Regions from separate parts of the Homo sapiens genome. Here region 1 is linked to region 2. The links come from fine-mapping of genetic effects on gene expression. Tissue or cell type: whole blood. Region 2 holds a variant in brackets; the other region holds the start of a gene. All regions are shown on one strand. Distances are from middle to middle.

Region 1 (5,000 bases), 39 kb after region 2:
AACCCTTTAAACTAATTTAAGTTAATAATAAGAATGGCTAACAGTTAAGTACTGTATTGTACTAAGCACTCTTACATACATTTATTTAATTCTCACATTAACTCCAGGCTGTAGGAACTTTTTGTTTAAGAGACAGGGTCTCATTCTGCTGCCCAGGCTGCAGTGCAGCTGCATGATCATGGCTTACTGCAGCCTCGACCTCTCGACCTCCTGGGCTCAAGCAATCCCCCAGCCTCAGCCTCCCAAACGGCTCGGATTACAGTCGTCAGCCACCATGCCCAGCCTGTAGAAACTTTTTTTTTTTTTTTTTTTTTTTTGTGGGGGGAGAGAGTCTCCCTCTGTCACCCAGGCTGGTGTAGTGCAATGGCGTGATCTCGGCTCACTGCAACCTCCACCTCCCCGGTTCAAGCGATTCTCCCGCCTCGGCCTCCCCAGTAGCTAGGATTACAGGCATGCGCCACCACGCCTGGCTAATTTTTGTATTTTTATTAGAGATGGGGTTTCGCCACGTTGGCCAGGCTGGTCTCGAACTCCTGACCTCAGGTGATCCACCCGCCTCGGCCTCCCAAAGTGCTGGGATTACAGGCGTGAGCCACCGTGCCCAGCTGTAGAAACTATTTTTAATCTCCATTTTATAAATGAGAAAACTAAGGCACAGAGCAGTGAGGTCACTCGCAAACAATCAGACAACTAATAAATGAAGCGAAAAAGCTGTATTGAGGCAGCCAGTCCTCATAAACACTATACAGTACTACTCTCCCTTCTGCTAGTATTTAGTACAATCCTAAGTACATAACAAGCATTCAACAAATAACATTTTTACAAAAACAAAAGTAAACAAGTTTGGCATTCAATTCTCAACCTTCTCTCTTTCTACACTCTTCACAAATCCTTCCTTTAGACTCTTCTCCCTGCTATACTGACATCGTCTTGCTTTTTCTTAAGCCACTATTCCTGACCAGAATGCCTCTTGGTTATTCTTTCCATTCAAATTTATAAATATTCCCACGGCTTTAAAAAAAAAAAAAAGTCAGTCGTGCACCAACGTTAAATTTTTGACTGAGTTTTAAGAAGAGAAGTTTTCCAAGTTAAGCCCCACTACATCAGTTACATTTTGAATTTATTTATTTTCCATGTATTATGTCTGGACAGTTGGCATACTTGGAAACTCTTTAGTCATGTATGTATCATTTTATAACTTTTAAAGGAATTCTTGTATGGGACAACTACTGGGAAGTGAATGCTATGCTTTGAAAGCAAGGAGACAGCGTTAAAAACATCAATACAGACCAAAGGGCATCCAGTGGGAACTGAACTCTGAGTGAGCGGCGACAGCTCCCGGTATCGTGGGATTCTTAAGTAAACCTTGTCCCCAGGCCAGGTCCGGACATCCTTCCGAGACTGCTTCAGGCAAACTCCTAAGGTCGCTGTAGCCTGCAGGCCACACCCTAAGGCACTTTAAGGGCCTACACCTGTGGAGCCCTAGGGACGCTTCTGCTCCTAAGGAGAGTTCTCAACTTCCCATTTTATTCTCCGAAAGATGTAGCGACCTGTAAACTGAAGGCGGCTACTGAAGACTTACCGTCTTTCCCGCCCCATTGGGTCCAACCAAAATTGTAAGGGGGCTGAAGAAAGTGATAATTTGCTTATCTTTGTCCTCTATTCCAAAACTCCGCACGCCCAGAATGCTCATCTTTTCGATCCGGGACATGTTTGCAAACGTTTCTAATCTCACCAGGGACCTGGAGCCCACAAAGGCTTAACTGAGGCCGAAGCAAGGCGTGCACGGGACGTGAGACCCGCGAATCTCAGGGTCAGGAGGATCCGGGCGGGGAGCGAGGCCACAGGACTGCCAAAAGATCCTGCCAGCCAACAGCGGGAGAGAGGGGGCGGGGGATGGAGCCTTTCCTCCCACACCAGCTGCTTTCCCCGCCGGTGGGGAGAGCGGAGGCGGGGACCAGCCTGGGGCTGCCCGCCGGGGACGCAAAGCCGTAGCCACAATGCGACCCCGCAACCGCGCACTCACAGCTTCCTGCCTCGGCCGCCCTGCGGATCACGTGGGCCTCTAGGCCCGCACGCGTCCACGCCGCTCTCCTGGGGCACGCCGGGAAATCAGAGTCCCGCGGTGCGTGCGCAGCTCCGACTTCCGGGTGCGGTACGGCGAAGCAGAGGGCTAGGTGCTGGGTGCTGTTGCCAGGGGCAGCGGACTTCCGGATCTTTGCTGGGGATGGGCAGCCTGGAGAGGCACTGACTTTTGGAAGGGGAGACCAAGACCTGTGACGGATGGCGCTTCCCAAAGCTTGATCCTGGGACTCCTGGAATGGGGGTAGTGGTGGGGTGGATTGGAGACCCAGGAAGCGGGGTCAGTTCGTGTCAAAACTATTTTCCTTTTCATTCTCATTCTCTCTCTAACGTTCGTGTAGTAATTTCCAGTGATCACATAACATGTGATGACGCCATTGCAGTGGCGGTTAATGGAATGTGCGCATGTGTATTCTTGCGCTTAGAAATACCAATTTTAATTTCTAATTGAGTAAATGTTGATAATTATAACTCACGTACACGCTCTTTGAGGTCCCCCGTAATTTTTTAGTGTAAAGGCGTCTTTAAGACCAAAAGTCTGGGAACTAAAACTAAAAGCAGTCTGCAAATATGAAGAATGTAGAGGTAATCCATTCCGATCAGTGCTCCCAGCAATAGATATCTTTAAAAATAAGGGAAAGAGAAGTTACCTGTCTCAGAAGTAACTGAGAATATTGCTTTCTTGGAAACAAACTTAATGGAGGGATATCACATTTAAGGGCCTAGAGAAACATACATAAAAATTACTGAAACAATAGTGGAGGACATTTAAATGAAACACAAATTTGGAATTACTGTAGTGGTATAATTTGCCTCTGCCTGCCTTGGAAAAATGTAGGAAATGTTTCTCCAGTCATACAATCCCAAGCAAATAATTTACAGAACCTAATACATAAATGTATGTGCCAAAGGATGCAAGTGGGGAAGACCAGTGAGAAATAGTCTCTTGCTGTACCAGGTTAAAAAAAACCGGAAAGTGTCAGTTATTACAAAATAGTTAAAATAACTAATGGAACAAAACATTAAAATTATATAGGAATGTCTTACTTGGCAAAGCAAATGTAATAAAACAATGGGAAAAGACGAAAGACCTTTTTTTATTTTAAAAATTGTAAAATACACATAAAATTTACTGTCTTGGCCAGGCGCGGTGGCTCACGCCTGTAATCCCAGCACTTTGGGAGGCCGAGACGGGTGGATCACGAGGTCAGGAAATGAAGACCATCCTGGCTAACACGGTGAAACCCCGTCTCTACTGAAAACACAAAAAATTAGCCGGGCATGGTGGCAGGCGCCGATGGTCCCAGCTACTCAGGAGGCTGAGGCAGGAGTATGGCATGAACCCGGGAGGCGGAGCTTGCAGTGAGCCGAGACCGCACCACTGCACTCCAGCCTGGGCAACAGAGCGAGACTCCGTCTCAAAAAGAATTTACTATCTTAACCAAGTGTACATTTCAGTGGTGTTAAGTATACTCACGTACAACCGTCACCACCTTTCAACCTCTACAAATCTTTTCACTTTGCAAAACAAACTACCCATTAAACAATAACCCTTTCCTCCCCACATCCTCCAAACCCTGACAACCAACATTCTACTTACTGTCTCTATAATTTTTTACTAAGTACCTCATATAAGTGGAATCATACAGTATTTATCTTTTTGTGACTGGCTCATTTCACTTATAATGTCCTCAAGGTTCATCCATGTTGCAGCTCAGTCCCCAACCCCTGGGTCACTGACCAGTATGCATACCTGGCCTGTTAGGAACCTGGTGGCACAGTAGGAGGTGAGCAGCAGGTGAGTGAACATTACCACCCGAGCTGGGCCTCAGATCAGTGGGGGCATTAGATTCTCATAGGAGCACAAACCGTATTTTGAACTGCCCATGAGAAAGATGTAGGTTGCCCCATGCAAGGGATCTAGCTTGCCCATTCCTTATGAGAATCTAATGCCTGATGATGTGAGGTCGAACAGTTTCATCCCAAAACCATCACCCCACTCCTGTCTGTGGAAAAACTGTCTTCCGTGAGACTGGTCCCTGGTGCCAAAAAGGTTGGGGACCACTGTAGCATATATCAGAATTCAGGTCGTTTTTAAGGTTGAATAAGATTCATTACAATACACATCACATTTTGCTTATCCATCTATTGATGGACATTTGGGTTACTTTCACGTTTTAGCTATTGTGAATAGTGTGGCTATATATATTGGTGTACAAATGTCACTTCTGGACCCTGCTTTCAATTCTTTTGGGTATATACCCAGAAGTGGAATTATTAGATCATACAGTAATTCAATTTTTAATTATTTGAGGAACTGCCATACTGTTTTCCACAGTGGTTGTACCATTTGACATTCCCACCAATAGTGCATAAGGGTTTCAATTTCTACATATGCTTGCCAACACTTGTTATTTTATGTTTTTTTATGGTAGCCATCCTGATGAGTGTGAAGTGATACCTCATTGTAATTTTGATTTGCATTTCAATAATTATTAGTAGCATCATTTCATGTGTTTATTGGCCATTTGTGTATCTTTGAATAATTGACTATTCAAGTGGAGACTTTTTTTTTTTTTTTTTTTTTGAGATGGAGTCTCACTCTGTCACCCAGACTGGAGTGCAATGGTGCGATCTTGGCTCACTGCAACCTCCACCTCCCGCGTTCAAGTGATTCTTCTGCCTCAGCCTCCTGAGTAGCTGGGATTACAGGCACGTGGCACCACACCTGGCTAATTTTTTGTATTTTTAGTAGAGACGGGGTTTCACCATGTTGGTCAAGCTGGTCTCGAACTCCTAACCTTGTGATCCACCCGCCTCGGCCTCCCAAAGTGCTGGGATTACAGGTGTGAGCCACTGCGCCTGGCCAAGACCATTTTTTAAGTCAGATTTATTGAAGCATAATTAACATACAGTAA
Region 2 (5,000 bases):
CTGGTGACGTGCGCCTGTAATCCCAGCTACTTGGGAGGCTGAGGCAGGGGAATTGCTTGAACCGGGGAGGTGGAGATTGCAGTGAGCCAAGACTGCGCCACTGTACTCCAGCCTGGGCGACAAAGCAAAACTCTGTCTCAAAAAAAAAAAAAAGGAGCCGTGATAGCTAGGGTCCTAAAATATAATACGATGTTAATTTCTGCCATTTATTGTATAACAGTCTAACACAGAACTAAGCTCATATTTCTACTACGTGTACTTTCTACCAATTTCAAATTTTATCCATTTGATCTTTTTCTTTTCAAGATACTACCTTATTCCTCTCCTTCCTTTTTATTCTCAAACTACTGCCTCTGTCTCCTCATCTCTGTGGCCCCAATAATCTGGTTTTCACCCTTGATGCTTGTGTTGGTTATCTATTGTTGCATAACAAAGTATCCCAAAACTTAGCAGCTTAAAATAACAGCACTTATTATTTCTCAGAGATATGAGGATCAAGAGATACGCTTCTGACTCAGGGTCTCGCATGAAGTCGCAATCAAGCTGTCAGCCAGGACTGCAGTCATCTTAAGGCTTGACTGCTACAAAGTCTGCTTCCAAACTCACTTGCTCAAAGGCCTCAGGTCCTTGGCATATGGGCCTCTCCAGAGGGCTGCTTGCAACATGGCAGCTAGCTTCCCTCAGACAAGAGACAGAGGGAGACAGAGTGAGTGAGAGAGGGGAGGAGTGGGGGAGAGTGAGCGAGTTCACACAAGGGTACAAGCACATTGCGAGAACAGAAGAAGCCATAGTACCTTAAATAACCTAATGTTGGAAAGGCCATGCTATCACTTCTGCCTGTTTTATCAGTTATATAGACCAATCATGCAACAGCATGAGATGGGACTATACAAGAGTATAAATACCAAGAGGCCGAGATTACTAGGGACCATCTTAGAAGTTGGCTGCCACAAACCACATCTTCTTAGGCCTTTCTTTCTCCTTTTCCTGAAACTCCTCCTTGGTTTTCCAGGACAATCACTTTCACTCTCCTGGTTTTTCTGCTTCCTGAGCTTTTCTCAGCCTGTTTCAGTCAATATATTAATATTAGATTAATTTTCCTAAAATACATCTTTCACTAACTCCCTTAGGTTGGCTCCTCATCACCTATCAGAGTTACAACTAGACCTGAATATAATGTAGCCCTATCTCCCCAACATACAGGACTCAATCCCTATAAATAATTCCCCAAACTCCAGATAACATTTCTACTGCAGCATAGGTCATACTCCTCTTCCCTTTGCACCGTGTTCTGACTTCCGTCTCCTCTCAGTTGAGCTGAATGAACTTCTCCAGGTCTTATATTCCTCTTCCTGCCTCATTCTCAAAATATTCTTCTCATTCTGTATCCATTGGCTCCTCCCTTCTTACCTAACACATCTGTTTGAATCATTTTTTAAGCACTTTATTAAGCCTAGCTTTCTAAATGTTGAATTCTGAGAGCTTGTCTTCTTAATCAGACCATTAGCTCCTGGAGGGTCATGTCTTAGGTCTCTGGCACTAGCCTTGTTCTCTATGTTCTGGGAGACACTAAGGCAATCATCACATATTTCCTGACTTGATTTTTGTTTGTAAACAGAACATAACACGAATTTCTTGTATAAGTGATGGAAAATATAAACAACCGAAAATCATCTATGATTCATTCTTTTAGCAAGTGGAAAAGACATTAAAAACATAGTTTAAAATCTGTCTTCTGGGAGAACTTTTCAATACTTAAATTCTTTTGCTGGGTTCAGAAAGTGGCATGTCAACAGACAGTCCTAAATCTGTGAAAATCTATGCCCACAAGCTAAGTCTTGGGAATTAAACACACATACAAAAGAACGTAAAGACTGTGTCTACCTCATAGTTTAAGAAATAAGCTTACTGGCTATGCACGGTGCTCACACCTGTGATCCCAGCACTTTGGGAGGCCGAGGTGGGCCAATCACTTTGAGGCCAGGAGCTCGAGATTAGCCTGGCCAACATGGTGAAACTCCATCTCTACTAAAAATTACAAAAATTAGCTGGGCGTGGTGGTACATGCCTGTAATCCCAGCTACTGAAGAGGCTGAGGCATGGGAATCGCTTCTGGGAGGTGGAGGTTGCAATGAGCCAAGATCATGCCACTGCACTCCAGCTTAGGTGACAGAGAGAGACTCTGTCTCAGAAAAAAAAAAGAAAAAGAAAAAAAGACAGGAAACAAGCTTATCTTTAAACAAAATAATTGAATCTTCTTATCATAGAAGTGATATAAGACAGGGCATACCAGCTCAGAGTCCTTACTGAGTAACTACCATCTGCCCAGGCATGAGATGGGTACCTTTTACAATGTGCTGCTACATGTACAGTGAAGGTAAATCCCATTCTTACCTCATGGGCACAAGTCCCAGCATTTCATCACGCCGCTTTTCCTTTTTTTTTAGCTCTGATTCTGTTGACTTGAGTTTATCTGGAGCAAGTCGCAGTTTAGACTGCAAATCACTGATGACTTCTTGTAACTCAGCCTCTGTCTGAAAAACTCTCTGACAAACGGGGCAACATGACTGGTTTTCGTCTGTTAGCTGAGTAATGAACTGGGAGTAAACTGCTGTGGCTCCAGCCAGCATGGCTATTTTAAGAAAATAAATTATATCACCAATGAGAAAAAAACATAAAATACAGTATTCTGAATACGGTTGTATCTTTTTCTATAAATATATGATTATTCTTGCTTTATAAATATATTATAAAAGAAATAAAAATTCTGATATTTAAAATTCCGATATTCGCTTCCAAAGAGCATGATACATTCAGATTTGTATAAATATTTTTTGGTAACACATTATAAGTATAACAAAATGCCTACTGAGAGCTTTCTATGTGCCAGGCACTGTTCTAAGGGCTTTATAATTACAATCTCATTCA[C/T]ACCTCAGTACCACAGGTGGTAGTTGTGTCCTCATTTTATAGACAATGAAACACAGGAAGGTTTCAGTAACTTGCCTAAAGTCACACAGTGAGTAAGTTGTAGAGCCAGGACTGAAATCCAAGCCATTAGGCTCCATAACCAGGTTTTTAAATTCCCCATCCTTAACAGTTACCTGTGAATGAAAATTCAAAGGTGTCAAAGTATCCTGATAATATAAAGTAGACAACTTACCTCGCTGTTTTGATGATTTTTCAATTTCCTCTTTAAGCCTGTCTAAATCACTTTCAAAATCCTGGCTACCACAAACATCAAACAGCTTGTCTTCGTAACTGGACAACTGCTCTTCCTTTCTTTTTAGTTCATTATTTATATGATTTTTATTCTGCTCAGATGAAGCTAGTTCCTTGCTAAAATAAGAGCAAATATGGATTTTCATTTTAAAATAGGAGAAATTAGTTTGAAAATTTGAGTAGGCAAAAACAAGACAAATTCTGCCAACAAATCATGACAAGAGTTTGGTATGACCAAATAATTTTTTTCAGAAGTTGAGGGACTAGTCCACTTCTGCCTTAACTCTCCCCCTAGGACACTGACTCACCTGCCAGTCCTACTCATGGGCCTGCTCCCAGAAAAATGTACACAGAATTCTGCCTGGTTTCTGGGGGTTCATGGTCTTTGATCCCAGGTTAAGCCTCAGCAAGATGCTTGCTAGGACTATTGGACAGAAAGAAGACAAGAGAACATCCCCGTAATTCCCTTTAGTCCTTTCACAAATACTACTTCCTTACTCTCCTGTAAATACTGTTTCTTTTGTATCCTCCCCCTCCTTGTTGCTGTCATCCACTTGCGTCCAGATCAGTCATTCCCTCTCATTCATCAAAGATTTTGCTTACTAGTACAATTTATCCCCACTTTAATTCTTAAACATCATCCTAGCCAACCTCAATACTCACACATAACATGGTTTTTCAATTTGCAGGTTTAGATGCATTAGCTACCATGTAATCAATTTAATGTATTCAGCATATTTTTTAAAAATGAAACAGAATAGACGGTAATATATTGGAGTAGGCTGTATGTATATGTACTACTTTGAGAAATTTGTTTCAGATAAATGTGTGTGACTGCACACATGCTTCTTCATCATGACTACCCATCCTGAGTCACAGTAAACATTTGGAAAAAAGTAACTAATATGATGATATTTTCATTATCCTAGACTCCCTTGAGCACTTCTCATCAAGATCACCAGTGACCTAAGTGCCAAGTACAGTCTTCATCTTACTCTACCTCTACGTAGCACCAAACACTGTTGACCTTCTCCTTGAAGACTATTTTCCCAAGGCACCTAGACACCACAGCTATCTGGCTCTCACCCTGGTTCCCTGGGCACATCCCAGTTTCCTTCACTTGCTCCTTTTCCTTTGCCTGCTAACATTTTAAATGTTTGTGCTTCCCAGGAATCTAATTGTAACTCCTTCCCTTTGCATAACTCTCTCAAGGTGACATACTAATGACTTTGAGTATCCCTTACATAGCAACAACTTCCAATCTCCTGAATTTCAAACTCCAATATTGTATTCCCTCACAGATACTTCCACAAGAAACACAGATTAAACACCACCAAAGCCAAGTCCTTCTACTTTCCTCAAAAATCTGTGTGGAATTTTTGACCCGCTTATCCAACCACTATCCAAGGTAACATCTGAGAAACATGATCACTTTTTATAATGGATTACTCACAGAAATGAAAATAGAATTTTTAAATTTTAATCTTCATAGGTCTACAAATTTTCAAGGGACAAGAGGCCTAAATTACTATCCGTTACCATTTTACTTAATTTGCAAAATATGAGGGGTCTTCAAAATGTTCATGGAAAATGTGTATTATAAAAAAAACTATGCATGAAGTTCAAAATGTTTTGCACTGAAACAAACTCATACTAACTTGTTATAACATGTCTGAATAGGATCTAGTTTAAGGCACTAACAAGGTTAAGACATCAGTTTGAAAAGAGCCCCAATTAAACTGAAGCAAGAACAAGTATCAAATTTATGGTGAAGTGTGGGT

What was found. PIP is the estimated chance that this variant, and not a neighbour inherited with it, causes the effect.
Region 1: it holds the start of RAD50, and the variant in region 2 is fine-mapped to the expression of RAD50 in whole blood (TOPMed, PIP above 0.99). The same link has a PIP of 0.9 or more in fibroblasts.

Annotation. Positions count from the first base shown.
Region 1 is chr5:132,554,036-132,559,035 of GRCh38, reverse strand. It overlaps RAD50 (RAD50 double strand break repair protein), which reads right to left and starts at 2,059. Exons shown (of 25, transcript NM_005732.4): 1 at 1,583-2,059. The coding sequence starts at 1,711. It also overlaps a transcript of IL5 not described here. RefSeq lists an enhancer at 1,776-2,436.
Region 2 is chr5:132,593,205-132,598,204 of GRCh38, reverse strand. RAD50 (RAD50 double strand break repair protein) reads right to left here. Exons shown (of 25, transcript NM_005732.4): 12 at 3,161-3,336; 13 at 2,395-2,632. Among named protein-coding and RNA genes, the nearest start is that of RAD50, 39 kb to the right of the region's middle. The variant C/T (reference allele first, on the strand shown) is at 2,929.